Linked DNA regions of Homo sapiens: all the other regions are linked to region 3. Evidence: fine-mapped expression QTL. A gene starts in region 3. Each other region holds a variant in brackets. All regions are shown on one strand. Distances are between the middles of the regions. Region 1 overlaps SORD (sorbitol dehydrogenase). Region 2 overlaps DUOX2 (dual oxidase 2). Region 3 holds the start of SORD (sorbitol dehydrogenase). Region 4 has its middle 94 kb from the start of TRIM69.

The links. PIP is the estimated chance that this variant, and not a neighbour inherited with it, causes the effect. A credible set is the group of variants that fine-mapping cannot tell apart.
Region 1: its variant is the best candidate, but not a certain one, in a credible set for the expression of SORD in NK cells (Gilchrist 2021, PIP 0.89).
Region 2: its variant is the best candidate, but not a certain one, in a credible set for the expression of SORD in transverse colon (GTEx, PIP 0.64).
Region 4: its variant is the best candidate, but not a certain one, in a credible set for the expression of SORD in whole blood (TOPMed, PIP 0.89).

What each region holds. Positions count from the first base shown.
Region 1 is chr15:45,071,594-45,076,917 of GRCh38, reverse strand. SORD (sorbitol dehydrogenase) reads right to left here. Exons shown (of 9, transcript NM_003104.6): 8 at 4,480-4,601; 9 at 1-3,553. The coding sequence ends at 3,388. Among named protein-coding and RNA genes, the nearest start is that of DUOX2, 40 kb to the left of the region's middle. The variant G/A (reference allele first, on the strand shown) is at 2,294.
Region 2 is chr15:45,092,344-45,098,028 of GRCh38, reverse strand. DUOX2 (dual oxidase 2) reads left to right here. Exons shown (of 34, transcript NM_001363711.2): 27 at 1-20; 28 at 288-415; 29 at 638-791; 30 at 1,969-2,201; 31 at 2,434-2,592; 32 at 2,938-3,093; 33 at 3,338-3,466; 34 at 3,757-5,379. The coding sequence ends at 3,879. Among named protein-coding and RNA genes, the nearest start is that of DUOX2, 19 kb to the left of the region's middle. The variant A/G (reference allele first, on the strand shown) is at 2,328.
Region 3 is chr15:45,017,862-45,025,686 of GRCh38, reverse strand. It overlaps SORD (sorbitol dehydrogenase), which reads right to left and starts at 2,492. Exons shown (of 9, transcript NM_003104.6): 1 at 2,338-2,492. The coding sequence starts at 2,403. RefSeq lists an enhancer at 1,123-1,773 and a silencer at 2,543-2,712.
Region 4 is chr15:44,826,380-44,834,351 of GRCh38, reverse strand. It overlaps the pseudogene SORD2P. Among named protein-coding and RNA genes, the nearest start is that of TRIM69, 94 kb to the right of the region's middle. The variant C/T (reference allele first, on the strand shown) is at 4,232.

The DNA of each region.
Region 1 (5,324 bases), 52 kb before region 3:
AGGGGGAACTATAATAAAGAGGCTTAAGAAAGAAGAAAAAATAAAAAATAAAACAGGCTTAATATATCAACCGCATGCAATATGTTTAGATCCTGATTCCAGAAAAGCAAGTGTAAAAAAGTAAAGTTTTGGCTGGGCATGGTGGCTCATGCCTGTAATCTCAGTGCTTTGGGAAACTGAGGCAGGAAGATTGCTTGAGGCCAGGAATTCAAGAACACTCTGGGCCACATAGTGAGACCTTTTTAAATTTTTTTCTCTACAAAAAGTAGCCAGGCATGGTGGTGCATGCCTATAATCCCAGCTACTCCAGAGGCTGAGACAGGAGGATCACTTGAACCCAGGAGTTTGATATTGCAGTGAGCTCTGATCAAGACCCTGTCTTTGGGGGAAAAAAAAGTAATTTTTTCTGTTTTTTAGATGAGGGAAAATATGGCATGGATTGACGGGGTATTAGCTATTATGAAATTATTATTAGTTTTGTCAGGTATAGTAATGGGAATTATTTAATAATTGTGATTTTTTTAAAGTCCTCGTCTGTTTATGAGTAAAATGAAAAAAGTAAAGTACACTCCCATTAATGTTTACAAATGCATGCACATGTTTGATATGTATAGATTCATGGAAAGGGGCTGCAGGAAGCCCAGGAATTCATTCCTACCACCACCACAACCAACTAAGTGCTCAATCAATATTGATTGACTCAGTGAATCAGTCCCGGAACCAAGAATGTGAATTCCCCACAAGCTCCCCGACCTTGGGAGGCCCAGCAGCCTCTGTGTGCTCTGTCACCAGTGCCTGGCACTTGATTCACGCTTTCAGTCAACACTGAGGTCCCCACCCAGTCAGCTCCACGAGTGCTAGGGAGTGAAGACGTGTCAGGGCGGAGAGCTGGGAAGGACCCCACAGGCAACCTGGAAGCAGCGGACTGCTCCATGGACCCTAAAGGAGAAAGAGGACATGTTGGCTCCTCTAATTCCCTCTTGCAGCCCACCTCTGGCTACAGCAGATGCTGGTGTGAAGTCACCTCTGCACTCAGTCACTGGTTCTCTGACATCTTCCCCACCCAGTCTCCCTTGTGTAGCACAGTCCTGCCTCCTCCCTCCTGACTCCTATTGTGTGTGCAGGAGGCCTGTTGGGGAGTTGGTGGAGCCAGAGGTTAGGAGAAAGAGAGGCAAATAGGATTTATGGGATATTTGCCTTTCCTAAGAACTGTCCTCTGCTCATGATGTCAACCTAGGTTCAAGGTACAGAGGCCAAATAACAGGGAAGAAATGCTCAGAAATTAGCAGCCAGCTGGGACAGAGGCTGGGTCTGGCTACAGGCGGTGGGGCCTGGTCAGGGTCATCTCTGGGTGGCCTCCTCCACACACTGACTTCTACCTAGGGCTCAGGGAGGAGGAGGATGAAGGGGCAGCAGTGAAATGGCTTCACGAGGCATGCATAGGCTGCAGGAAGTGCCTCCAAGACACCAGCAGACATTCTCTGGTAGAGCCTCTGCCCCTCACTCCCAGCTTCCTTCTCTCTTAAAGCCCTGGCTGAAGCAGACACTGGAGCTCCTTCTCTGGGCACCTGAAAGGGGGCACAGGGCGTGAGGAAGATGTTTCCACCAAGACTGCTTAGTGCATCTTCTCATCAGTAGGAGCTGCTTGGTGGGGGTGGTGGCATGGGGAGCATCATTTGTCCTCTAGGACTGGACACCTCAGGCCTATGAGAGGCAGCATGTTGTAAAGGATTTGATGTCAGGATTCCTGGGTTCTGTCTAATCCTGGGCCATTGACTAACCCACTGTGTGATTTGCCAAGTCACTTCCCCAATCTGAGCCTCAATTTCCTCTCTCGTTAACTGAAGGGTTGTGTTGTAAGACAATCTTAAGGTCTCCTCTGGCATTTATATCTTCTTTATCTACAAAATGATTGTGTATGTGGCTTGTCATGAGGATTAGAGATAATTCATGTCAATGAAATTATATTTGGTACAGAAAATATGTAACCTTCAAAAATCCTGGGATCCTTCCCTCTGGGAAATGGGTAACCTGAGTCCATTCCCCACTAAACAGGACCATAAACAGCAGCATGAGTCAGATACCACCACCAATATTTATTACCCAAAGCAATCTGAAAGAATCGGGCACAAGGTCATGGCTTTCCCAGGTTACAAGAAAATCAGAACCTCTTCAAACTCACCCTCCACCCATAGCCAAAGTAAGGAATTAAAGGCTATAGCTCAAGCTATGTCATGGCTACTATATCCTCATTCTTGATGAATAGTCTCAAAGTCACAAGTTGGCATGATGC[G/A]ATTTAGGTCTAAATCTTACCAGAAAAAAAACCCACCATTAAAATAAGACAAGTTCATAGAAATCATTCCAACAGAAAGATACCAAGAGCCTTTACTGGTAATGAGAAGAGGAAAGATTTTCTGTTTATAATAACCAGAAAGAAATGGAATTGTCTAATAACCATCAATTGAGTATGAGCCTAGTTGAGTTGAGTATGAGTCTAGTATGGGATGCTAATCTTCTGGGGTGGGGGAAGTCCTGTGAGCTAACCAAACCCTCCTGGTCTCTGGTGAGGTCCACAAGTAGCAGTTTCCTGGTTGCCTGGTGACAAGGGACCATGCTTAGGGGTGGGCTGGGGCATGTTGGGGAGGGGGTCCTTCACTTGGCAAGTGAAATAACACAATTCTCAGAAGCTGTAGAAGAGGCAATCTTCAAACAGTGCTGAGTAGTCCTCTTACTTTTTCCACATTAGGGGAATGCAAACTGGTTTAACCTCACATGACATTTCCTTTTTTGTTTGTTTGTTTTTTTCATTTGATTGGTTTAAAAATTATCCTGGATCCAGGAAAGTGATGCCTTTTCTTATTCTCCTTTTATCATCAAAACAAACAGCCAATATGTCTCTAGAAACATTGCGTTCTAAACTGGAAGTGCTGACAAGCCTTCATCCCAGACCCTGAGTGGCAGATTTTCATGAAAATCAGCTTCTGGGCCAGTTAAGTCTTCATGAAGTTATCTTTTCATAACTCAGCCCTCATTCCCCTCTGGGTCAGTAGCAGTGGAACCAGGAAACCCAAGGGCCAGATTTCCTTCCTCAATGAAGGCACTCCAGGAAGAAGGGGAGTTCCTGGCACCTGCCTGCCAAACTCTGCTCTACTTGCTGAACTTTGCTCAGCATGAACAGGGCATTCTGGCTACAAGTTCCCCCAAACTATCCCAGATTGTATCTTTAAGGCACACCAATTCCTCTGCTTAAGGACTTCTGTTCACAATGAATTGTATTAGTTATTCTTAACATTCAAAAGAGAAAGTTCTGCATCAGAGCCCACCCATGTCCAGCCATTGTGCCCTGAGATCCCAAGACTGTGGGGATGAGGGCAGAGCCCATTAACATCAGGGATTCTGGTCACTGGGGTCACACTTGAGCATGATTTTCAACCCCAATCCCTTTTTAAATGTTTCAAAGGCCTCCAGAGCTTTCTCCAGAGGAAACCTATGGGTGACGAGGGGTTTTACATTCACAGACTTGGACGCAAGCATCGAAATCGCCACTGGCCACCTGTAAAAGAGCACGAGCATTATATTCAACCTTCAAGAGGAAAGAGCCAGGTGCCCCAAACTACCAAGCACTAGATCAGCTTGGCCGTATTTATTGATAGCACTGTGGTTCTGCAAAGCCAATTTTACAGGCCAACAACCCAGGAAAGGACCTTATGGCTTATGATTCAGGGGTACAGAGCCTATTTGCAATTGCCCCCACCCCTCACCCACCCGCTCACTCTGCCACGTCTGCCATGGAGCCTAGAATTCCTGTGGCATGAAGGTACAAGGCACATGGTGGAGGCCACTGGGAAAAGGCAGAGAAGCCGTGGGGAGGCAGCCCGGGACAATCCAGTCACACCCACTAACAGCTCAGCTTACTGGAAAACTGGCGCCCTGATGAGGGCATGGAGTTACAGCCTCTAAAGCCAGGAGTAAGGGACACTGCTGGGGAGAGGGGTCCCAGCCAGAGGGCCCCAGCAGGGGAGAGGGTGGAGCTGCAGAACATGGGTGGGGCAAACTAAGACCCTTTCGCTCCCCAGGGTGGGCCCTAGGGCTAAGGAACGGAAGCCACAGGACTTGATTTCTTCCTTTTGTCCTCCTTTCTCTCCTTCTTCCCTTTAAAGGGAGAAAATGGAGACCTGGCAACTTAAGAAAATAGGGGGAAAAAAGGGGCCTGGGGGGGATAAGCAGCAGACACTCAGTAAGACTATGCTTCAAAATCCCCTCCTTCCCTCCCTCCATCCATCCTTCTGTTCCTCCCATTCTTTAACTGGCAGTGAGTGTTCTCTCTTTGGATCCCTGTTATATCACACAGCTATCAGTGTGGCCAGGGAGTGCCCCCCATGAACAAACAGGCAGAGACTCATGGGCCCAGAGGCTGAGTGGGGCCTGCCATGGTCTTGCTGGAGGCTGGGCATCCCGGCTCACCCACGGCATACTCACGTGTTGCAGTATCGAAACACGCCCTTGATATCCACCTCCCGGATGGCTGCATGCAGTAGGGGTACGGTGGTCATCTCAGAGCCCAGCCCCACAAGCACGAGGTTCCCACCAGAGCGAGTGGCCTGTAAAGGAGGTAAAAACAAGAAAGCTCAGAAGATAAGAAATACTGACTTCCCACTTACAATAACATATTGTCATCACACAAGTATCTTCTGGTTGCATCAGCTGAGCATCCAAAAATTCCTGAGAATGTGATTTGTGTACACTGCTGAACTGCTCAACCTGCCAACCAAACTTAACTGAGCGGGAGAGTAAACACGGTTTTCTTTAAAGTGTATTGTGAAAACATACACTTAACCCATGGAGAACCAGGCACAGTGGGAACATCTTCCAAAGCTTTACAGATTCGGGACCCAATATTGGCTTCAGCCACCTCCACAGTCTAAGCACCTGTTCCTCCCCCAGAGCGCCCCTCCACAGGCAGCACTTTCATCAGAGCTGGAAGGAACCACTGGCCCTCTAAGCTCACCGGTGGTGAGAAAACTATAAACATGAGACAGATGGGCCACTTGTATTCTGTGGCTTAAAAAAGGCTTCATACATGCATGCAGGCTGGCAGTTAGAAATCTTTTTGTTCCAGAGATGTTTACCTCAACAGTATGAGCCATAATGGGTTTTGTCTTCCTTGAATGTTTATCTGCCTTATCAGTTCCCCACTTGGAGTGGGTCACAGGCAGCAGTGAAATTTCTCCTGAAAATTTCCCCAGAACTCCCTGTGAGTGCTGTGCTTGTTCCAGAGCTTTCTGGGGATCACTGTGCTCAGTGCGGTGAGAGACAGAAGAATG
Region 2 (5,685 bases), 73 kb before region 3:
GTTCTTCCAGACCGTCCCAGGTAGGAAACGTGGGACCTGGGGGTTCTGTCTGAGGACTTCTGCTTTTGTCTCCATCTCTCTGTGAATACTCACTTGTCTATACTGGCCATGGGGTCTGTTTCTAGCCTTCAGGACAAGCCCCAGCTCAAATCCCTCCAGGCAGGCTTTTCTGGGGGCCCCGGAGGGATGAGAGAGGAAGGAGGGAAGGATAGGGGAATGTGCTGTTGTCTTTTCAGCCCAAGCTGAAGTCCTGAGACTACTCACTGGCCCTGTCTTCCTGCCCCCAGGTATGACAGGTGTGCTTCTGCTCCTGGTCCTGGCCATCATGTATGTCTTCGCCTCCCACCACTTCCGCCGCCGCAGCTTCCGGGGCTTCTGGCTGACCCACCACCTCTACATCCTGCTCTATGCCCTGGTGAGGGACTTCCCTGGGCCAGCCCATGGAGCAGGGAGCTCAGGATGGGACAGGAAGGTGAAAGAGGGAGAATTGGATCCAAGATCTCAGAATGAGACTTTGAGATTTAAGACCCCAGACCTCAGCCCTATCTCCCCGGCACAGGCCTAGTGCCTGGGCAAGAGGGGATGCCGGGCAGGGGCCTGGCTGGGCCTGAGTTGTACTAACTGGCCGTGTCTCCAGCTCATCATCCATGGCAGCTATGCTCTGATCCAGCTGCCCACTTTCCACATCTACTTCCTGGTCCCGGCAATCATCTATGGAGGTGACAAGCTGGTGAGCCTGAGCCGGAAGAAGGTGGAGATCAGCGTGGTGAAGGCGGAGCTGCTGCCCTCAGGTATCAGGCCCAGCCTGACCTGGGTCGGGAGCGACAGAGGCCAAATCTTCAGACATGGGGAGACAGTTCACCAGGTCTCCTGACCCCATCACTGCCTCTGACTCTGTCTCCAAAAACAACAACAACAAAAAACCACTCTCGGGGGTTCCTGAAGGTTTCCTGATAGAAGTAGACCCAGAAAGGGCTGTGCTTAGCTCCCAGGAGACTTGCAGATGGTGAGAAGTGACCTGAGAAGAGGTGGCTGAACGTGCATACAGAGGGGTTTGAGGATGGGAAAGGGCCCCACATGTGTGGCCTGGGTGCAGGGGAAGTGCAGGGCAGGAAGCCACATATGCCTGTCCCATTCCTTCTCTCAGAGACAGGCAAATGCCCAGATTGCCAGTCTGGGTTGTTGAGAGTCAGTGCTGGCCAAAGTCGGGATTGGTATCATCATAGAGGGTGGCAAAAGATGATTTTATGTATCTCAGGACTGTCTAACCTTCAGGACTCATGTTGTAAAAAAATTAATCTCATTGCAATGTTATTTCAATTGAGATTACTTAAGGACAAAATCTCAGAGTGGTGTTAGTATGCCTTTCTACTCTCCAGCACTTGCTGATCTCCTTTTTCAATGAAGAGATCAGGCCTGAGGCTCAGCTATGGTACAAACAGTATCCAGCTAAAATTTGGTAACAAAATATGTTGTCTTCTATGTAGGACACATGATACTGGTTTTCCACTTACCTTAGCAATAAAGTTCCCTGCCAAGATTAATTGAATTGGAAAAGTTAGTCAATTTAAAGAAAAGTGTTAGATAAATGATAGTGCAGGAGGTGTGTAGAAAGGTAACCCTCAAATGGAGGTCTGGTAGCCACTGAGATGGTCCCTGGTGAGCCTGAGTCCCTTTACCCAGCAGGTTGGTATTCAAGGCAGTGGTATGAGGCCTGGGCCTTCCATGGGAAGAGGGAGTAGAGAGGAGGAGAGGGGCTGGAACAGGGGAGCAGAGAAACCCAGCTCTTGCATTACCTGGGAAACAGAGAAGGGGACCCTCCTACTCCCAGCCCCAGGAGCCCCGCTTGCTCAGACCATGTGACTACTCCCCAGGCCTCAGGGGTGTGAAGAGGACAGGTGCCTATCAGTCCTCAGGTACCAGGAGCAGGCCTTCTCATCTGTGCTTTTCCCTGTCTATGACCTCCAGGAGTGACCTACCTGCAATTCCAGAGGCCCCAAGGCTTTGAGTACAAGTCAGGACAGTGGGTGCGGATCGCCTGCCTGGCTCTGGGGACCACCGAGTACCACCCCTTCACACTGACCTCCGCGCCCCATGAGGACACACTCAGCCTGCACATCCGGGCAGTGGGGCCCTGGACCACTCGCCTCAGGGAGATCTACTCATCCCCAAAGGGCAATGGCTGTGCTGGATACCCAAAGGTGCCCGTCACTGGGAACCCTGCTTCCGGGCCTCTGGCACTGGCAGAGGATCTCTGCCCTTCCCTATCCTGAGACTAGAAGCTCCAGCCGTCCCAAAGCCAGCCTGGGAGAGGACCGGGGTGCCTC[A/G]GAAAAGACTAGGATGTTCTGTATCCTCCCTCTGCCTGTGTCTCCGTTTCTGGTCTCAGAGCTGGGGCAGGGTCAGGCTCATTTCATCTCCCCCCTCTCTTGGCAGCTGTACCTTGATGGACCGTTTGGAGAGGGCCATCAGGAGTGGCATAAATTTGAGGTGTCAGTGTTGGTGGGAGGGGGCATTGGGGTCACCCCCTTTGCCTCCATCCTCAAAGACCTGGTCTTCAAGTCATCCTTGGGCAGCCAAATGCTGTGTAAGAAGGTGAGCATCCCTCCCTCATTCATCAAATGGGGCATAGGTGGCCGAATTGTGACCCGCATCAAGTGGTGGAGCATGAGAGAAAGCTCCTGGCTCCAGGAACTGAGTCTGAAGGGGTCATTCTTACCCAGTGGTTGAGATGCCAAACTTGGAGGGAGGTTGGTGGTATAGCCAGAAGGGCCTCTGCTGGGACCTGTCAGTTGGAAGCCTGGGATCAGGCTGGTGGGTCCTGCCACAGCTTTGGTGTCTGCAGGTGGTCTGGGGCTTCCCAGCCTCTCAGGTGAAGGCACCTGGGATCTAGGGAGGCTGAACTGAGCTGGGTCCTGATCTCCAGCCCTGTGTCCCCAGATCTACTTCATCTGGGTGACACGGACCCAGCGTCAGTTTGAGTGGCTGGCTGACATCATCCAAGAGGTGGAGGAGAACGACCACCAGGACCTGGTGTCTGTGCACATTTATGTCACCCAGCTGGCTGAGAAGTTCGACCTCAGGACCACCATGCTAGTATGTCAGGGCCCGCCAGGCAGGGCAACTTGGCGGGCAGATGGATTGGCAGCGTAAGGCAGGATGGCCAGGGCAGGTGGGTGGACGGCCAGGCTGAGCTGGCAGGAGGCACAGAGCTGATGGCCTGATCCTCAGCCTCCAGCTCCCTCCCCTCCCCATTCTCTGTCTCTTGGGCTATGTGGGCTGGCTCGGGCTGAGTGCTGGCCCTGACTGTCTTTGGTCTGACCTGCCCCTGTGCCCCCAGTACATCTGCGAGCGGCACTTCCAGAAAGTGCTGAACCGGAGTCTGTTCACGGGCCTGCGCTCCATCACCCACTTTGGCCGTCCCCCCTTCGAGCCCTTCTTCAACTCCCTGCAGGAGGTCCACCCACAGGTCAGTCCCACTCCCTCCCACCCTGGGACTCTGGCCTTCTCCTGCCAGGACATCCTGGCCCTGAAGCACCCTGCCACTCTGTTCTGAGCAGAGAACTCCACCCGATTGCCTGGCCCCAGGATGAGGTCAGCTGTTAAAGGGGGACTTCCACCCCCTCCACGTTAAGCCTCCTCCTCAAGGCCTGGGCTTGAAGCCTTAGTCATTCCAGCCAGGCTCAGGAAGCAGCTTTTCCCAAGGAGAGTGAGCACCTTTAGGCTGCAGGCCCCTCTCTCTCTCCAATCTCCTGACAGGTGCGCAAGATCGGGGTGTTCAGCTGCGGCCCTCCAGGAATGACCAAGAATGTAGAGAAGGCCTGTCAGCTCGTCAACAGGCAGGACCGAGCCCACTTCATGCACCACTATGAGAACTTCTGAGCCTGTCCTCCCTGGCTGCTGCTTCCAGTATCCTGCCTTCTCTTCTGTGCACCTAAGTTGCCCAGCCCTGCTGGCAATCTCTCCATCAGAATCCACCTTAGGCCTCAGCTGGAGGGCTGCAGAGCCCCTCCCAATATTGGGAGAATATTGACCCAGACAATTATACAAATGAGAAAAGGCAGGAGACTATGTTCTACAATTGCAGTGCATGATGATTATAAGTCCACCTGTTTATCAACGGCACCATTCCTGCAGCCCTCCAGACTTCCTGCCCTTAGCAAGTGCGCAACCAGTCAGGATCTCCCAAAGAAGATAAAGACCACTCCTCACCCCAGCTCAAGCCATGGCAGGCGTGGCAAGCAAAGTGGGGAGGAGACAGTCCCTGCTTGTGACAAGTGTGGAGGTGAAAAGGTACAATAGTGCTTGTCTCCGATAGCTCCCCACATCTCTAATTGACTTCCACAAAATCGATGCGTTGCTTTGGTATTTGCTTGGACTGACATTTGAGGGAGGAGGAGGCTGGGATCCTCTGGCTGAGAATCTCCTCAGAGCCCAGTGCAGAAGCTGTGATGCTTAGAACCTGGACAGCCCGACTGCCTCAACTCTGTCTCCAGGTCTATTCCCTCCAGCTCCAAAAGGAGCAGCCCTACTTCTACCCCTTCCCGTCCCCAAAGTGTCAGCAACTTTGAGGAGGGCACCAGGAAACAAAGATGCCTCCCCAGCCCTGATATTCTTGATGTCACCAGTGATACCCACTGCCCTGACCCCTGGGCAGGCCCCTCTCTGCATCTACTGGAGTGGTCCCTGGGCTCTGGGGCTGAAGGATTCCAGCCTCTCTGCCAGATATTCAGTACTCGATCTCAATTCCCCTCTTCCACAAGAGTTGGGTGACCAGCTGTCCTAGTTTGCCCAGGACTCTCCCTGTTTTAGCACTGAAAGTCTCTTGCCCCAGGAAACCCCATCAGTCCCAGGCAGATTGGGACAGCTGGTCACCTTACGCAAGAGCCAGGCTGAAACATCCCCTCCATACTCAGCTCTTTAACTTTTCTTTTCCTTTTTCATCGGGCTCTTTCCTAAAAAGCTGAGCTGTAAAATATTTTACATCGAGGTATAATAAATAATCATGTACATGTTTTACCACCACCCAGGTCAAGACATAGAATGTTTCAACATTTCCATCACCCCAGAAACTCCCCTTGTACCCCCTTCCACTTCGTCTCCCCTAGCTCCTAGAAGCAACCACTGATGTGATTTCTACCAAATCCAGTTTTGGTCCTACTAAATATACTCTTTTGAGACTGGCCTCTTTTACTCACCATAATGCCTTTGTAATTCATCCATGCTGTTGTGTGTATCAGCAGTTTGTTCCTTTTCATTGCTGAGTAGTATTCTATTGTAGAGATGTACCACAGTTTGTTTATTCTTCTGTTGATGGACGTTTGGGTTGTTTCTAATTTTGAATGATTATAAATAAAAATTCTGTGAGTGTTCTTGTACCTATGTTTTGGTGGCCATCATGCACTCATTTCTCTTGAGTATGTATCTATGAGTGGAATTGCTGGGTCATACAGTTATCCAGCCAGTAGGACCTGTGGAGGGAGAGTTTCAGACCAGGTTTGTCTTCTCACTGGCCCCACCCTACCTCTTCAGCCAGGCCAAATGCCTCTGGTTCCCAACCCCCTCTGTTGAAGGTATCTCTCTGACAAGGCTGGAAGAGCACCAATCAGAAGTCAAGAGACCTGGATTCTAGTGCCCACTTTATCTGCAAATAGCTATGGAGGGAAATCCCTTAACTCCTCTGGGCCT
Region 3 (7,825 bases):
GAAATTTCTCAAAGGCACCTTGTGTCCTGTCCCAGAGACATCTTTTTTTTTTTTTTTTTTTTGACATAGTTTTGCTGTCATTCAGGCTGGAGTGCAGTGGTACGATCTCAGTTCATTGCAATCTCTGACTCCCAGACTCAAGCGATTCTCAGCTTCCCAAGTAGCTGGGATTACAGGCATGTGGCACCACACCCAGCTAATTTTTGTATTTATAGTAGAGACAGTTTCACCGTGTTGGCCAGGTTGGTCTCAAACTCCAGACCTCAAGCGATCTGCCTACCTTGGCCTTTCAAAGTGCTGGGATTACAGGCATCAGCCACCACACCTGGCCTCCAGAGACATCTTAAACTCAACTTTTCAAACCTGATCTCATCATTTTAATCTACTCTGACTAGTAAATGACGCTACCACTTCCCATTCTCAAACTGAGCCTAGGTGTTTTCCTAAATCCTCCTCTGAACTCTTTTACCCAGCTAGTGTTCCAGCACACAACCAAAGGTGAAATTCTCTAGCCCATCATATTTTCTAGATACTTCAGGTTACAGCCACCCCAACCTAGCCCCTAATCCAGTCAGAGAGTGGGTTCTAATGCAAAGCTGATGAGATCAAGGTTAGTTCGCTGCTGCTCTAATCTTCAAAGCTTTGTCTACGGAACCATAGTAGAGGTAGTCTGCCTGAGCAGTGGAAGACCATGAGTTTGAGGTAAGATGAAGGAGAACTTAACTGTGTTTCTGCACCTTAGGTGCATGACTTTTAAGCAGGCTCTGAGCAGATAGAGGGCCAAGGGCCCCTCCCTGTGGCGTCTTTTCTCTCTGAGGCCTCCATCAAAGCCCTCGGGCTCTGTCATAATTGTTGACTTTATCTGTCTGCCTCCCTCAGTAAACTTGGGAGCAGGGGCTGTGTCCTCCTTTCTGGGCCCTCAGCCCAGTGCCTGGCACATGGCAGGCACCCTTTCATGAGTGAATGTTTGTGGAATGAAGTACTGAGTTGGAAATCACTCTGCAAGCTGGGTAGAGCTGGACCACTTTCCCTTACTCATAATACCATCTGGCATTTGCAACAGTAAACACTAACAGCCTCACTTTAATTCAGGACCTTGGGTGGAGGCTCCAAAGAGTGGAATGAGCACTAGAATGGGGAGTCTGAACATCTGAGTCCTTGTCGTGGCTCTGTTAACTAACAAAACCTATCACCTTGGGTATGGTACTTTCTTCAACTGAGGAGATGGAGAGTCAGCTGGGACAAGGGTTCTATAGAGGGGCTTAGAGCGGCTTAAAGGGAGTCCTTGAGCAGTCTGAAATTGTTGCCAAACTCAGTCTATTTGCATTCTGTGGAGGGGACACCACAGATTCTTAAATAGTCAAGAACTGCTAACCTGGATAAGCTTCTGAATTACTGCAGTTTACATACTGACGCATGTACTTTGAGGGAAAAGAGGTACAGGGGAGCAGCAGAGATGGCTGGCACTCATCCCACATACCCACTGCCATCCCAGGCCCATCTGAGAGGGACTTTGTCAAGGGAGGCTTGGCATGACTAGGCTGCTGACTCAGCCACTTCCTAAACTTTGGTGCCACAAGCCAGGGAGCAAAAGGCAGGGTCTAAGGCAGAGGACACACATACAGAATGCTCCTAAAGGGACAGAGGCACGGGATTGGAAAGAAAAACTGCTGGAAAGTGAACCAGACAGGGTCTTAGGGAGAGAAGGATCCTTACAGACAAGGGAGCTATCAAGATCCACAAGTCTGGCACAGGCAAGGGGAACAGCAGGGGTTCTGGAGATGGAGGCCTAGACTGGAAGGAAAGGAGAAGGAGCTGGCACTTCCTGAGCACGTACTAAGTGCTGAGTACTCTTGTGATCATCATAATCCTGCAAGGGAGGTTTATCAGTCCCAAGCAAGGGAGTTAAATACAAGTTCTGCTGTTTCTAAGTGTCCTCTGGCCCCCCTTTCTCTGCTCTGCACGGTCTGCCCCGATAATTCAGACAGCCTTAGCATTTCCTTTGGAAAGGTCAATGACAAGAGGCTGGACTATGAATCTGCAGCTGGCAAAGGAGAGAGAAAGCTTCATTCAAACAGTTTGCAACCGTCCTGGGCACCGGCCACGTGCCAGCCACGGGGCTAGGTTCCGGGAGGCACACGACTAGATCCCTGCCCTTCGCAACAGCCACTACCTGCTGCCCCCACACCCCGAGGGGAACCAGCTGGGATCTGGGCAGCCAGGGCGCTTAAGGTGCGGGGCCGGCGCCAGGCTGGAAGTGGGAAGCCAGGACTATGGCTGGGCTCAGAGGAGAGTGAGGCAGGATCGGTATGCTTCCCACCCTCCTTCCCAGCTTACCAGGCGCAAGTCCCCCGGTCCGTGCACCACCAGGGAAAGGTTGTTGGGCTTGGCCGCCGCCGCCATGGAGCTCTTTTGGCTCTGGAGTGCGGCCTGGAAGGCGCGGGACGTTTGGTCGCTCTGGTGGCGCTACCCAGCCGAGGGTCCAGGGCACTGGATGGAAGGTGGGGCCTGGGAGAAGCGCCGCACGCAGGGGCGGGACTAGGCTTCCTCCTTTGTGCCAGCCTGGGCGGCGCTAGCGTGGAGGGGCGGGGCTTCCCAGCCTCCTCCAGACCCGGAGGCGGGGCGGGGCTTCGGGAGGGGGCTGGGAGCGAGAAGCCCGGGTGCTGGCTCCATCTGCAGCGCGCTGTTTTTTTTGTTTGTTTGTTTGTTTGTCGCCGAGGCTGGAGTACAGTGGTGCGATCCCGGCTCACTGCAAGCTCTGCCTCCCGGGTTCAAGCCATTCTCCTGCCTCAGCCTCCCGAATAGCTGGGACTACAGGCGCCCACCACCACGTATTTTTGTTTAGTAGAGACGGGGTTTCACCGTGTTAGCCAGGATGGTCTCGATATCCTGACCTCGTGATCCACCCGCCTCCGCCTCCCAAAGTGCTGGGATTACAGGCGTGAGCCACCGCGCCGGCCCTGCAGCGCGCTGTTTTTGCCGCCTCACATGCAAGCACACACGGCTGCCTTGAAAACCGCCTGCAGAGGCAGTAGGCACCAGACCAGCGCTCTCAAACGTTAGCTGCAGAAGAATTGGGGTGGGGAATGTGAGGCGCTGTTGAGAATGCACATTCTCAGGACCAGCACAGAGATTCTGATACAGTAGGTCTAGGTCTGAGGTGCTGCCTGAGGGTCCATATTCCTAGCAACGAGAATGCTGAGGCTGTGGGTGGAGCACGGTGTGCACTTTGCGAGACAGGTGCTACCATGACGCAGCGTCCACGTCGGCCCTTTGTCTCCAGCCCCCAGGAAAGGGCCTGGCACGAGTAGGAGTAAATGAATTCGTGCATCATTACATGGGCCTGGTGCTTAAGTATAAAAAAGACATGAGGCCGGGCGCAGTGGCTCTTGCCTGTAATCCCAGCACTTTGGGAAGCCGAGGCAGGTGGATCACCTGAGGTCAGGAGTTCGAGACCAGCCTGACCAATATGGTGAAAACCCCGTCTCTACTAAAAATACAAAAATTAGCCGGGCATGGTGGCATGCGCCTTAATCTCAGCTACTCGGGAGGCTGAGACAGGAGAATAGCTTGAACCTGGGAAGCAGAGGTTGCAGTGAGCTGAGATCATGCCATTCAACACCAGCCTGGGCAACAAGAGTGAAAATCTGTCTTTAAAAAAAAAAAAGCCATGAAATGGAATTTGTGAACCTCTTTCTCTCAACTGGATCTGCTGCTTCTATTCAAAGCAGAGTTTCTGCCCAAACTCTTCCTTCAAGCCTCTCAGCCCTCTGAGAAACAGTGAGGTTTTACTCTCTGAGGAGAGAGGCGCTTCTAGATAGGCCTAAGTCTATAAGGCCCCTCCCTCCTTTGAGGATAATGCTCAGGATTTCATTCCCTTACAGTCCCCCCTCCCCAATATGTAACCGCCCAATGGATTCACCTTGCCTGCTGCCTAGACAAAACTAATTTATCAAGACAGGGGAACTGCAATAGGGAAAGAGTTCATGCAGAACCAGCTATGCAGGAGACTGGAATTTCATTATTGCTCAAATCCGGCTCCCCAAGCATTCGAGCATACGGGGACTCAGAGTTTTTAAGGATAGTTTGATGGGTGGGGAAAGGCCAGTGAGTCAGGAGTGCTGATTGTTTGGGTCAGAGATGAAATCATAGGGGATCTAAGCTGTCTTCTTGGACTGAGTCAGTTTCTGGGCGAGGGCCACAAGGTCAGATAAGTGAGTTTATCAATCTGGTTGGTGCTACGCCTTGAGGGACCGGTGCCAGTATAGGCTGTATTTGTTCCTTGCTGAGGGCCCTGGTTCCTCTGGCTAAGATTAGGCCTAGATATTTGACTTGTTGTAGGCAGAGCTGGGCTTTCAGTTTAGACACCTTGCCCGCTTGATTACCTAGAAAGTTCAAGAGATCTAGAGTAGCCTGCTGGCATGAGGCTTCCAAATTGGTAGCCAAAAGTAAATCATCCAGATTCCGTTCCAAGATGGCCAAATAGGAACAGCTCCGGTCTGCAGCTCCCAGTGTGATCGATGCAGAAGACGGTGATTTCTGCATTTCCAACTGAGGTACCTGGTTCATCTCATTGGGACTGGTTGGACAGTGGCTGCAGCCCATGGAGGGTGAGCCGAAGCAGGGAGGGGCATTGCCTCACCCGGGAAGCGCAAGCGGTTGGGGGATTTCCCTTTCCTAGCCAAGGAAAGCTGTGACAGACTGTACCTGGAAAATCAGGACACTCTCACCCAAATACTGCACTTTTCCAACGGTCTTAGCAAATGGCACACCAGGAGATTAAATCCTGTGCCTGGCTCAGTGGGTCCCACGCCCACAGAGCCTTGCTCACTACTAGCACAGCAGTCTGAGGCAGCAGCCTGGCAGGGGAGGGGCGTCCGCCATTGCTGAGGCTTGAGTAGGTAAACAAAGCAGCCGGGAAGGTTGAACTGGGCAGAGCCCACCGCAGCTCTGCAAGGTCTGCTGCCTCTGTAGACCTCACCTCTGGGGGCAGGGCATAGGTGAACAAAAGACAGCAGAAACTTCTGCAGACTTAAACGTCCCTGTCTGACAGCTCTGAAGAGAGCAGTGGCTCTCCCAGTACAGTGTTTGAGCTCTGAGAATGGACAGACTGCCTCCTCAAGTGGGTCCCTGGCCCCCATGTAGCCTAACTGGGAGACACTTCCCAGTAGGGGCCAACTGACACCTCATACAGGCGGGTGCCCCTGTGGGACGAAGCTTCCAGAGGAAGGATCAGGCAGCAACATTTGCTCTTCTGCAATATTTGCTGTTCTGCAGCCTCCACTGGTAATACTCAGGTAAACAGGGTTTGGAGTTGACCTCCCGCAAACTCCAACAGATCTGCAGCTGAGGGACCTGACTCTTAGAAGGAAAACTAGCAAATAGGAATAGCATCAACATCAACAAAAAGGACATCCACACCAAAACCCCATCTGTAGGTCACCAGCATCAAAGGTAGATAAAACCACGAAGATGGGGAGAAACCAGAGCAGAAAAACGGAAAATTCTAAAATCCAGAGTGCCTCTTCTCCTCCAAAAGATCACAGCTCCTCATCAGCAACGGACCAAAGGTGGACGGAGAATGACTTTGATGAGCTGAGAGAAGTAGGCTTCAGAAGGTTGGTAATAACATACTTCTCCCAGCTAAAGGAGGATGTTCAAACCCATCGCAAAGAAGCTAAAAACCTTGAAAAAAGATTAGACGAATGGCTAACTGGAATAAATAGTGTAGAGAAGACCTTAAATGACCTGATGGAGCTGAAAACCATGGCACAAGAACTATGTGATGCATGCACAAGCTTCAACAGCCAATTCATTCAAATGGAAGAAAGGATATCAGTGATTGAAGATCAAATTAATGAAATAAAGTGAGAGGAGAAGTTTAGAGAAAAAAGAGTAAAAAGAAATGAACAAAGCCTCCGAGAAATATGGGACTATGTGAAAAGACCAAATCTACATTTGATTGGTGTACCTGAAAGTGACAGGGAGAATGGAAACAAGTTGGAAAACACTCTTCAGGATATTATCCAGGAGAACTTCCACAACCTAGCAAGACAGGCCAACATTCAAATTAAGGAAATACAGAGAACACCACAAAGATACTCCTCAAGAAGAGCAACCCCGAGACACACAATTGCCAGATTCACCAAGGTTGAAATGAAGGAAAAAATGTTAAGCGCAGCCAGAGAGAAAGGTCGGATTACCCACAAAGGGAAGCCCCTCAGACTAGCACTGGATCTCTCAGCAGAAACTCTACAAGCCAGAAGAGAGTGGGGGCCAATATTCAACATTCTTCAAGAAAAGAATTTTCAACCCAGAATTTCATATTCAGCCAAACTAAGCATCATAAGTGAAGGAGAAATAAAATACTTTACAGACAAGCAAATGCTGAGAGGTTTTGTCACCACCAGGCCTCCCTTACAAGAGCTCCTGAAGGAAACACTAAACATGGAAAGCAACAACCAGTACCAGCCACTGCAAAAACATGCCAAATTTTAAAGACCATCAATGCTAGGAAGAAAATGCATTAAATAATGGGCAAAATAACCAGCTAACATCAAAATGACAGGATCAAATTCACACATAACAATGCATGATGGGTTCAAACATCCTTCTTTAGCTGGGAGAAGTATGTTATTACCAACCTTCTGAAGCCTACTATATTAACCTTAAATATAAACGGGCTAAATGCCCCAGTTAAAAGACATGGACTGGCAAATTAGGTAAAGATTCAAGACCCATCAGTGTGCTGTATTCAGGAGACCCATCTCACCTGCAGAGACTCACATCGGCTCAAAATAAAGGGATGGAAGAAGATCTAACAAGCAAATGGAAAGCCAAAAAAAAAAAAAAAAAAGCAGGGGTTTCAATCCTAGTCTCTGATAAAACAGACTTTGAACCAACAAAGATCAAGAGACAGAGAAGGCCATTACATAGTGGTAAAGGGATCAATTCAAAAAGAAGAGCTAACTATCCTAAATATTTATGCACCCAATACAGGAGCACCCAGATTCATAAAACAAGTCCTTAGAGACTTACAAAGAGACTTAGACTCCCACACCATGATAATGGGAGACTTTAACATCCAACTGTCAATATTAGACAGATCAACAAGACAGAATGTTAACAAGGATATCCAGGACTTGAACTCAGCTCTGCACCAGGCAGACCTAGTAGACATCTACAGAACTCTCCACCCCAAATCAACAGAATATACATTCTTCTAAGCACCACATAGCACTTATTCCAAAATTGACCACATAGTTGGAAGTAAAGCACTTCTCAGCAAATGTAAAAGAACAGAAATCACAACACACTGCCTCTGAGACCACAGCGCAATCAAATTAGAACTCAGGATTAAGAAACTCACTCAAAACCACAAAACTACATGAAAACTGTACTGTTCCTGAATGACTACTGGGTAAATAATGAAATGAAGGCAGAAATAAAGATGTTCCTTGAAACCAATGAGAACAAAGACACAAAGTACCAGAATCTCTGGGACACATTTAAAGCAGTGTGTAGAGGGAAATTTATAGCACTAAATGCCCAGAAGACAAAGTAGGAAAGATCTAAAATCAACACCCTAACATCACAATTAAAAGAACTAGAGAAGCAAGAGCAAACAAATTCAAAAGCTAACAGAAGGCAAGAAATAACTAAGATCAGAGCAGAACTGAAGGAGATAGAGACACAAAAAACCCTTCAAAATAATCAGTGAATTCAGGAGCTGGTTTTTTGAAAAGATCAACAAAATCGACAGACTGCTAGCAAGACTAATAAAGAAGAAATGAGAGAAGAATCAAATAGACACAATAAAAAATGA
Region 4 (7,972 bases), 190 kb after region 3:
TCCAGCCTGGGCGACAGAGCGAGATTCTGTCTCAAAAAAAAAAAAAAAAAAAAAAAAAAAGGGAATTAATCTGGCGATTATTTTTGAACCCTTGATGGGAAACTAGGAAAATTTTTTTATTTGCGTGATCTTGGCTCACTGCAACCTCCACCTTAGAGAAATATTTTTGATAGTAAAGGGAAGGGCAACTCTTGGAACTTTCAAATTATACCAGCAAAGTGATGGCCTAGTCCCATCTATGAATAAGGTAGACCCTGCTCCCAGCCAGTGGGAGGAGTGAGCAGTGGTCTGCTCCCACACCACTGTGAGCCAGCAGTCTGCCTGCAGTAGGGTTGTAGCTAGCTGCCTTCTCTCATCCCCTGTTTCCAGCCATCTTTCCAGCCATCTGGAACAAGCCCTAGCAGCCTCAGAACGAATCATTCTGGTGACCCAGACAGTACGCTCACACTCCTTGTGGGTGTGATCTGGTGTTCCTCATACTTGTTTGTGATTTTCTTTGGCTGGCCAAATAAGTGATCACACGGCTTCCTAAGAGGGGTGATGGATGTAGAATAGACTTGCCACAATGGGCTAGCAGACTGCGGGACTCAGGTGACAGATTCTTATAAAAATCTGCATGGATCCAGTACCTTTTTACCATAGAAAAGGAAAATAAGTCACACATACCACACACATGCATGCCTTGCCCCCAACACACACACACACAGAAATTCACCTGTAATCCCATTACCGATTAGCCCAAGAGAACCACTATTAATATTTGGGTATAGAATCTTTTAGTTAGTTGGTTTTTTCTGAGACCATGCTAAATACGCTTCCTTTACCTACTCTTTTTTAAAAATCAGGCTGGGCACAGTGGCTCATGCCTGTAATCCTAGCACTTTGGGAGGCTGAGGCAGGCAGATCACCTGAGGTCAGGAATTTGAGATCAGCCTGGCCAACATGGTGAAACCCTGTCTCTACTAAAAAAACAAAAAGTAGCCAGGCTTGGTGGCGGGCGCCTGTAATCTCCACTACTTAGGAGGCTGAGGTGAGAGAATTGCTTGAACCCGGGAGGCGAAGGTTGCAGTGAGCTGAGATTGCAACACTACACTCCAGCCTGGGTGACAGAGCAAGACTCTGTCTCCAAAAAAAAAAAAAAATCAATATACTGTGAACATTTTTCCATGTCAATAGATAAAGAGTTATGGCGTAATTTTTAGTAGCCATGTAGTTTTTTAATCATGCTTTGTTGGACATTTCAGGTATTATTTTTCAGTGTTTTGTTTTCTGAGGGAGCTCACAAAATTGTTCTTAGGGGATGTGTACAAAAAGTAAACCCCCAAAGATATTCTGCATTGCTTTCATTCTGTGGGTCTGATTTTTATATTAAAACCATAGTGTCACATAGCATGCAGATACTATGGGGAAGCAGGTGTCTCAGGCAAATCCTTGGATACCTGAGTATCCTGGGGCTATCTGGGCACCTGGGCCAACCCAGGGAGCCAGCTCACTTAAGAACCCTCTCCAGGTGGTCCTCAGAGGGCACCTAAAAGGAATATGTCTCTCTCTGGGGGAGGTGTGATGGGTTCTCACGAAGGTAGGGGCAAAGAAAGAACAGGAAAACAAGTCCAGACCTTCTGAGATTTCTTATTTTCTGAGTAAGTTTGTGTTTCCTTGAATCCCGTGGTTCTTTGAGATTATCTCCACTAGTGCCCAGGAGTAAGTGGGAAAATTTTAGCTCTGAGGTTTGAGAGGATTAAATAGAACCCAGCACTAGGAGCGTATTTTATGTAGAGAATAATTCTTCATGGATTCATTCTCTTCTGCATTCAACAAACAGCCGCTAAGGTCTTATCATGCCAGGCACTGGGATAGATGCTAGAGACACACAAAAGATATGGTTCCTGTCCGTGGCCTGGACAAGTGGGAGAGCAGATGTTTAATATTTCACAATCTTATATCTTTTGCTTTGTTTAGGGGCAATCGGGGTAGTCACTTTGCTCGTGGCCAAGGCAATGGGAGCAGCTCAAGTAGTGGTGACTGGTAAGACTTTGTTCTTTATCAATCTCCTTGACTGGGAAACAGCTGGTCCTACTGTATGTGCATGTGTGAGGAGAGGTTATCCGTGACAGTGTGGAGGGGGTGAGTGTGTAGTGTCATATGGATTGTGGAGATATAGAGGAGTGTGAGTGTGTGTTTTGTGTTAGGAGAAGCTATGAGAGAGAGAGAGTTTGTGTGAGAGTGTGTGTGTGTGTGTGTGTGTGTAGCTGTATGGTGGATATGGGGGTATATGAGGGTGTAGAGCAGGGGTGTCCAATCTTTTGGCTTCCTTGGGCCACATTGGAAGAATGGTCTTGGGCCCCACATAAAATACCCTAACACTAATGATAGCTGATGAACTTTACAAAACTGTTTTTTAATTTCATAATATTTTTAGAGAGTTTACAGATTTGTGTTGGGCCATATTCAAAGCCATCCTGGGCTGCATGTGGGCTGCAGGTTGGACAAGCTTGGTGTGAAGAGTATGTGTGTTGGGCTCAACACCACCACCCATTGCACGAGAGCTTTGTTGCCATCAGATCTTACACCTCCATTTTCTTTTCTTCCTAATGAGTCATCAGATTTCTCTTGTTTGAAAGAATTTTTTTTTTTTTTTTTACCTTCAGATCTGTCTGCTACCCGATTGTCCAAAGCCAAGGAGATTGGGGCTGATTTAGTCCTCCAGATCTCCAAGGAGAGCCCTCAGGAAATCGCCAGGAAAGTAGAAGGTCTGCTGGGGTGCAAGCCGGAAGTCACCATCGAGTGCACGGGGCAGAGGCCTCCATCCAGGCAGGCATCTACGTGAGTGGGCTGAGGGCAGCTTTGGGGAATCAGCGTAGGGGAGTGAAGGAGGCAGAAGTAGGGAGTCAAACTTCTTTACCAGCTTGCTGCGTGAGCCCCAAGCCAAACTTATTCATCTTTTGCCATCTCTGTTTTCTTATCTCTAGTGTGGAGCCTGTACTTGAACTTGCCTTACATCCTCATTGGGCCATCTGAGGTTCACACAAGATAACAGCTATACATGGGCCTTGAAAAATGTTAAGGACACACACTTTGGGGACGCAGTTGGCTTCATGATCATATCTGTGATGTTAAAAGTGCAGTAGTTTTGGTAAAAAGATCAAGAAGAAAAACAGGGAACCATGCCTTAATTGTATGTGGGAAATCTCTGTCTTATTTTATTGAGGAAAACTGCAGTCTTTTAGTCATAGATATAAAGTGACAGTCATTCAGTTAGTCATGAAGGTGAGGTGATTTTCCAGGGTCACAGCTGACTACTGCTTGTTTTGTCTCCCAGACCTAGGAACAGATAAGCTGCCAATGCCTGATTCGCCCCTCAGCGACCCACCAGCCACTTATGGGAAGTTGGCAGGAAGTTGGAGGTGGTGGGAGGGAGTGGCACTGACAGATCAAAGTATGAGGAAACGAAGGGAAAATAACAACTTCCAGGTTCCAAGCCCTACTGTATGCCAGGTTCTCTGCTGTACTTTATAAACATGAGGCCTAATCTGCACAACAGCCCTGAAAACCAGTTACCGTTTTATGCTGAGGGATTTGTGGTTTGTTTGAGGCAAGCCAAGTCAGGCCCAGGCCCAGCCCTGCCAGGCCCCAGTGCCTGAGTTGCCCCGCTGCTTAGGAGAGGAAGGGAAGGAGGGCACGAACAACCATGCTAGGGTGGGGGGACAGGGCCAGGGCTGGAGAGGGTAGCAGGCAGCCGCCACCACAGGGGTCTCCTGTCCCTGCCTCCCAGACAGCCTCCCCAGGTAGCGTGGGCTTCCTCCTTCCTTCTGAGGCTCACAGCAGGAGGGCACTTTGCATCACATGAGACATTCTAGGGAAGGCTGACCCACCAAGCTGAGTAGCAGAGCTGCCTAGACCTCCTCCTACTAAGTTGCCCAGCGGCCTTGGGAGCTGAGGAACCAGTGGGGGAGAGGGAGGAGCGGGTGCCACCTTGGCAGTGTCGTGAGTTTCAGCTGGAGTCCGCCAGCCCTCTGCTTCACTGTCATAGGCAGTGGTCGCCATGTGGGAAGGGGCAAAAAGAAGCCGAAGCTCAGAGAGGAACAATGGATCTGTGTGTGATTGATCTACCCATGGTATGTCTTGGGCACCTACCATGTGCCAGGCTTTGTGCTGGGCACTTTGAGGGCTAAGACATGAGTAGGTTGCATCTGCTGTCTTCAAGTTGTCAGCAGGTAAGTGACCTCCACCC[C/T]GCAGAGAGGCAGTATAAGCTGGGGGACTTAAAGGACATGGCTCTCCTTCCTCTTGTGCCCTGCCCTTAGAGCATTTGGAACAGTTGGCATTTCCACTGTTGATGGTGGGGGCCTGGTTGCCAGGCTACCTGAGGCAGGCATGGAGGTGAATGTGACCCATGGGCCTCACCAGGCCTGAAGCAGTGTCTCTCCTGACGTCACGCATGACGGGTGCTGTAGAATGCTATAGGCCACCCCGCCAATGAGCAGGCTAGGTGGCTGGACCAAATATGGACAAATCTGAGCATCGCCGTCCTGCCAGGTTATGACTGGATAGTGTTTGTGATGAGACATGGCAGATGCCTTGGGGTAGAATTGATGTCATATCCTTGATGCAGATGCCATACCTACAGGATAGTGTCCAGGTGGTTCCAGCATTCCTTGACCTTGGGTCAGCAAACTGCTGGCATCTTGGCAGCTTGGAATGGCCAGTTGGTGTTCCTCCTCACCACCAGGTAGAGAGGAAGTGCTGATAAGGAAGTAGTTTCCCTAGAAAATGGGCTGAGAGGGCACGTCCAGGGTGCCACAGCTCTGAAGCAGCAGCGCTGGGAGTCACTCCCACACCACTCAAACCCTGAGTTCACCTCTTGCTCACGGCACCACAGGCCTCTCTCCATGGTGTATCCTTCATCTCAGAAGTGGAGGCTGTGATCGTGGTGTATCCTTCATCTCAGAAATGGAGGCTGTGACATGTGCCTTTCTCTAGTTCCACTGTTTAGCACCTAGAATGGTCCCAATAAATGCTTGCTGCTGACTATAATGAACAACCAGCATGATTGAATTATCCATTGTTCTGTCTCTCACCGCACTGAGCACAGTGATCCCCAGAAAGCTCTGGAACAAGCACAGCACTCACAGGGAGTTCTGGGGAAATTTTCAGGAGAAATTTCACTGCTGCCTGTGACCCACTCCAAGTGGGGAACTGATAAGGCAGATAAACATTCAAGGAAGACAAAACCCATTATGGCTCATACTGTTGAGGTAAACATCTCTGGAACAAAAAGATTTCTAACTGCCAGCCTGCACGCATGTATGAAGCCTTTTTTAAGCCACAGAATACAAGTGGCCCATCTGTCTCATGTTTATAGTTTTCTCACCACCGGTGAGCTTAGAGGGCCAGTGGTTCCTTCCAGCTCTGATGAAAGTGCTGCCTGTGGAGGGGCGCTCTGGGGGAGGAACAGGTGCTTAGACTGTGGAGGTGGCTGAAGCCAATATTGGGTCCCGAATCTGTAAAGCTTTGGAAGATGTTCCCACTGTGCCTGGTTCTCCATGGGTTAAGTGTATGTTTTCACAATACACTTTAAAGAAAACCGTGTTTACTCTCCCGCTCAGTTAAGTTTGGTTGGCAGGTTGAGCAGTTCAGCAGTGTACACAAATCACATTCTCAGGAATTTTTGGATGCTCAGCTGATGCAACCAGAAGATACTTGTGTGATGACAATATGTTATTGTAAGTGGGAAGTCAGTATTTCTTATCTTCTGAGCTTTCTTGTTTTTACCTCCTTTACAGGCCACTCGCTCTGGTGGGACCCTCGTGCTTGTGGGGCTGGGCTCTGAGATGACCACCGTACCCCTACTGCATGCAGCCATCCGGGAGGTGGATATCAAGGGCGTGTTTCGATACTGCAACACGTGAGTATGCTGTGGGTGAGCCGGGATGCCCAGCCTCCAGCAAGACCATGGCAGGCCCCACTCAGCCTCTGGCCCATGAGTCTCTGCCTGTTTGTTCATGGGGGGCACTCCCTGGCCACACTGATAGCTGTGTGATATAACAGGGATCCAAAGAGAGAACACTCACTCCCAATTAAAGAATGGGAAGGCCGGGCGTGGCGGCTCATGCCTGTAATCCCAGCACTTTGGGAAGCCGAGGCAGGCGGATCACGAGGTCAGGAGATCGAGAGCATCCTGGCTAACACGGTGACCCCTGTCTCTACTAAAAATACAAAAAATTAGCCAGGCATGGTGGTGGGTGTCTGTAGTCCCAGCTACTTGGGAGGCTGAGGCAGGAGAGTGGTGTGAACCCAGGAGGCAGAGATTGCAGTGAGCGGAGATCGCACCACTGCACTCCAGCCTGGGCAACAGAGCCAGACTCTGTCTCAAAAAAAAAAAAAAAGAATGGGAGGAACAGAAGGATGGATGGAGGGAGGGAAGGAGGGGATTTTGAAGCATAGTCTTACTGAGTGTCTGCTGCTTATCCGCCCTAGGCCCCTTTATCCCCCAATTTTCTTAAGTTACCAGGTCTCCATTTTCTCCATTTAAAGGGAAGAAGGAGAGAAAGGAGGACAAAAGGAAGAAATCAAGTCCTGTGGCTTCCGTTCCTTAGCCCTAGGGCCCACCCTGGGGAGCGAAAGGGTCTTAGTTTGCCCCACCCATGTTCTGCAGCTCCACCCTCTCCCCTGCTGGGGCCCTCTGGCTGGGACCCCTCTCCCCAGCAGTGTCCCTTACTCCTGGCTTTAGAGGCTGTAACTCCCTGCCCTCATCAGGGCGCCAGTTTTCCAGTAAGCTGAGCTGTTAGTGGGTGTGACTGGATTGTCCCGGGCTGCCTCCCCACGGCTTCTCTGCCTTTTCCCAGTGGCCTCCACCATGTGCCTCGTACCTTCATGCCACAGGAATTCTAGGCTCCATGGCAGACGTGGCAGAGTGAGCGGGTGGGTGAGGGGTGGGGGCAATTGCAAATAGGCTCTGTACCCCTGAATCATAAGCCATAAGGTCCTTTCCTGGGTTGTTGGCCTGTAAAATTGGCTTTGCAGAACCACAGTGCTATCAATAAATACGGCCAAGCTGATCTAGTGCTTGGTAGTTTGGGGCACCTGGCTCTTTCCTCTTGAAGGTTGAATATAATGCTCGTGCTCTTTTACAGGTGGCCAGTGGCGATTTCGATGCTTGCGTCCAAGTCTGTGAATGTAAAACCCCTCGTCACCCATAGGTTTCCTCTGGAGAAAGCTCTGGAGGCCTTTGAAACATTTAAAAAGGGATTGGGGTTGAAAATCATGCTCAAGTGTGACCCCAGTGACCAGAATCCCTGATGTTAATGGGCTCTGCCCTCATCCCCAGTCTCGGGATCTCAGGGCACAATGGCTGGACATGGGTGGGCTCTGATGCAGAACTTTCTCTTTTGAATGTTAAGAATAACTAATACAATTCATTGTGAACAGAAGTCCTTACGCAGAGGAATTGGTGTGCCTTAAAGATACAATCTGGGATAGTTTGGGGGAACTTGTAGCCAGAATGCCCTGTTCATGCTGAGCAAAGTTCAGCAAGTAGAGCAGAGTTTGGCAGGCAGGTGCCAGGAACTCCCCTTCTTCCTGGAGTGCCTTCATTGAGGAAGGAAATCTGGCCCTTGGGTTTCCTGGTTCCACTGCTACTGACCCAGAGGGGAATGAGGGCTGAGTTATGAAAAGATAACTTCATGAAGACTTAACTGGCCCAGAAGCTGATTTTCATGAAAATCTGCCACTCAGGGTCTGGGATGAAGGCTTGTCAGCACTTCCAGTTTAGAACGCAATGTTTCTAGAGACATATTGGCTGTTTGTTTTGATGATAAAAGGAGAATAAGAAAAGGCATCACTTTCCTGGATCCAGGATAATTTTTAAACCAATCAAATGAAAAAAACAAACAAACAAAAAAGGAAATGTCATGTGAGGTTAAACCAGTTTGCATTCCCCTAATGTGGAAAAAGTAAGAGGACTACTCAGCACTGT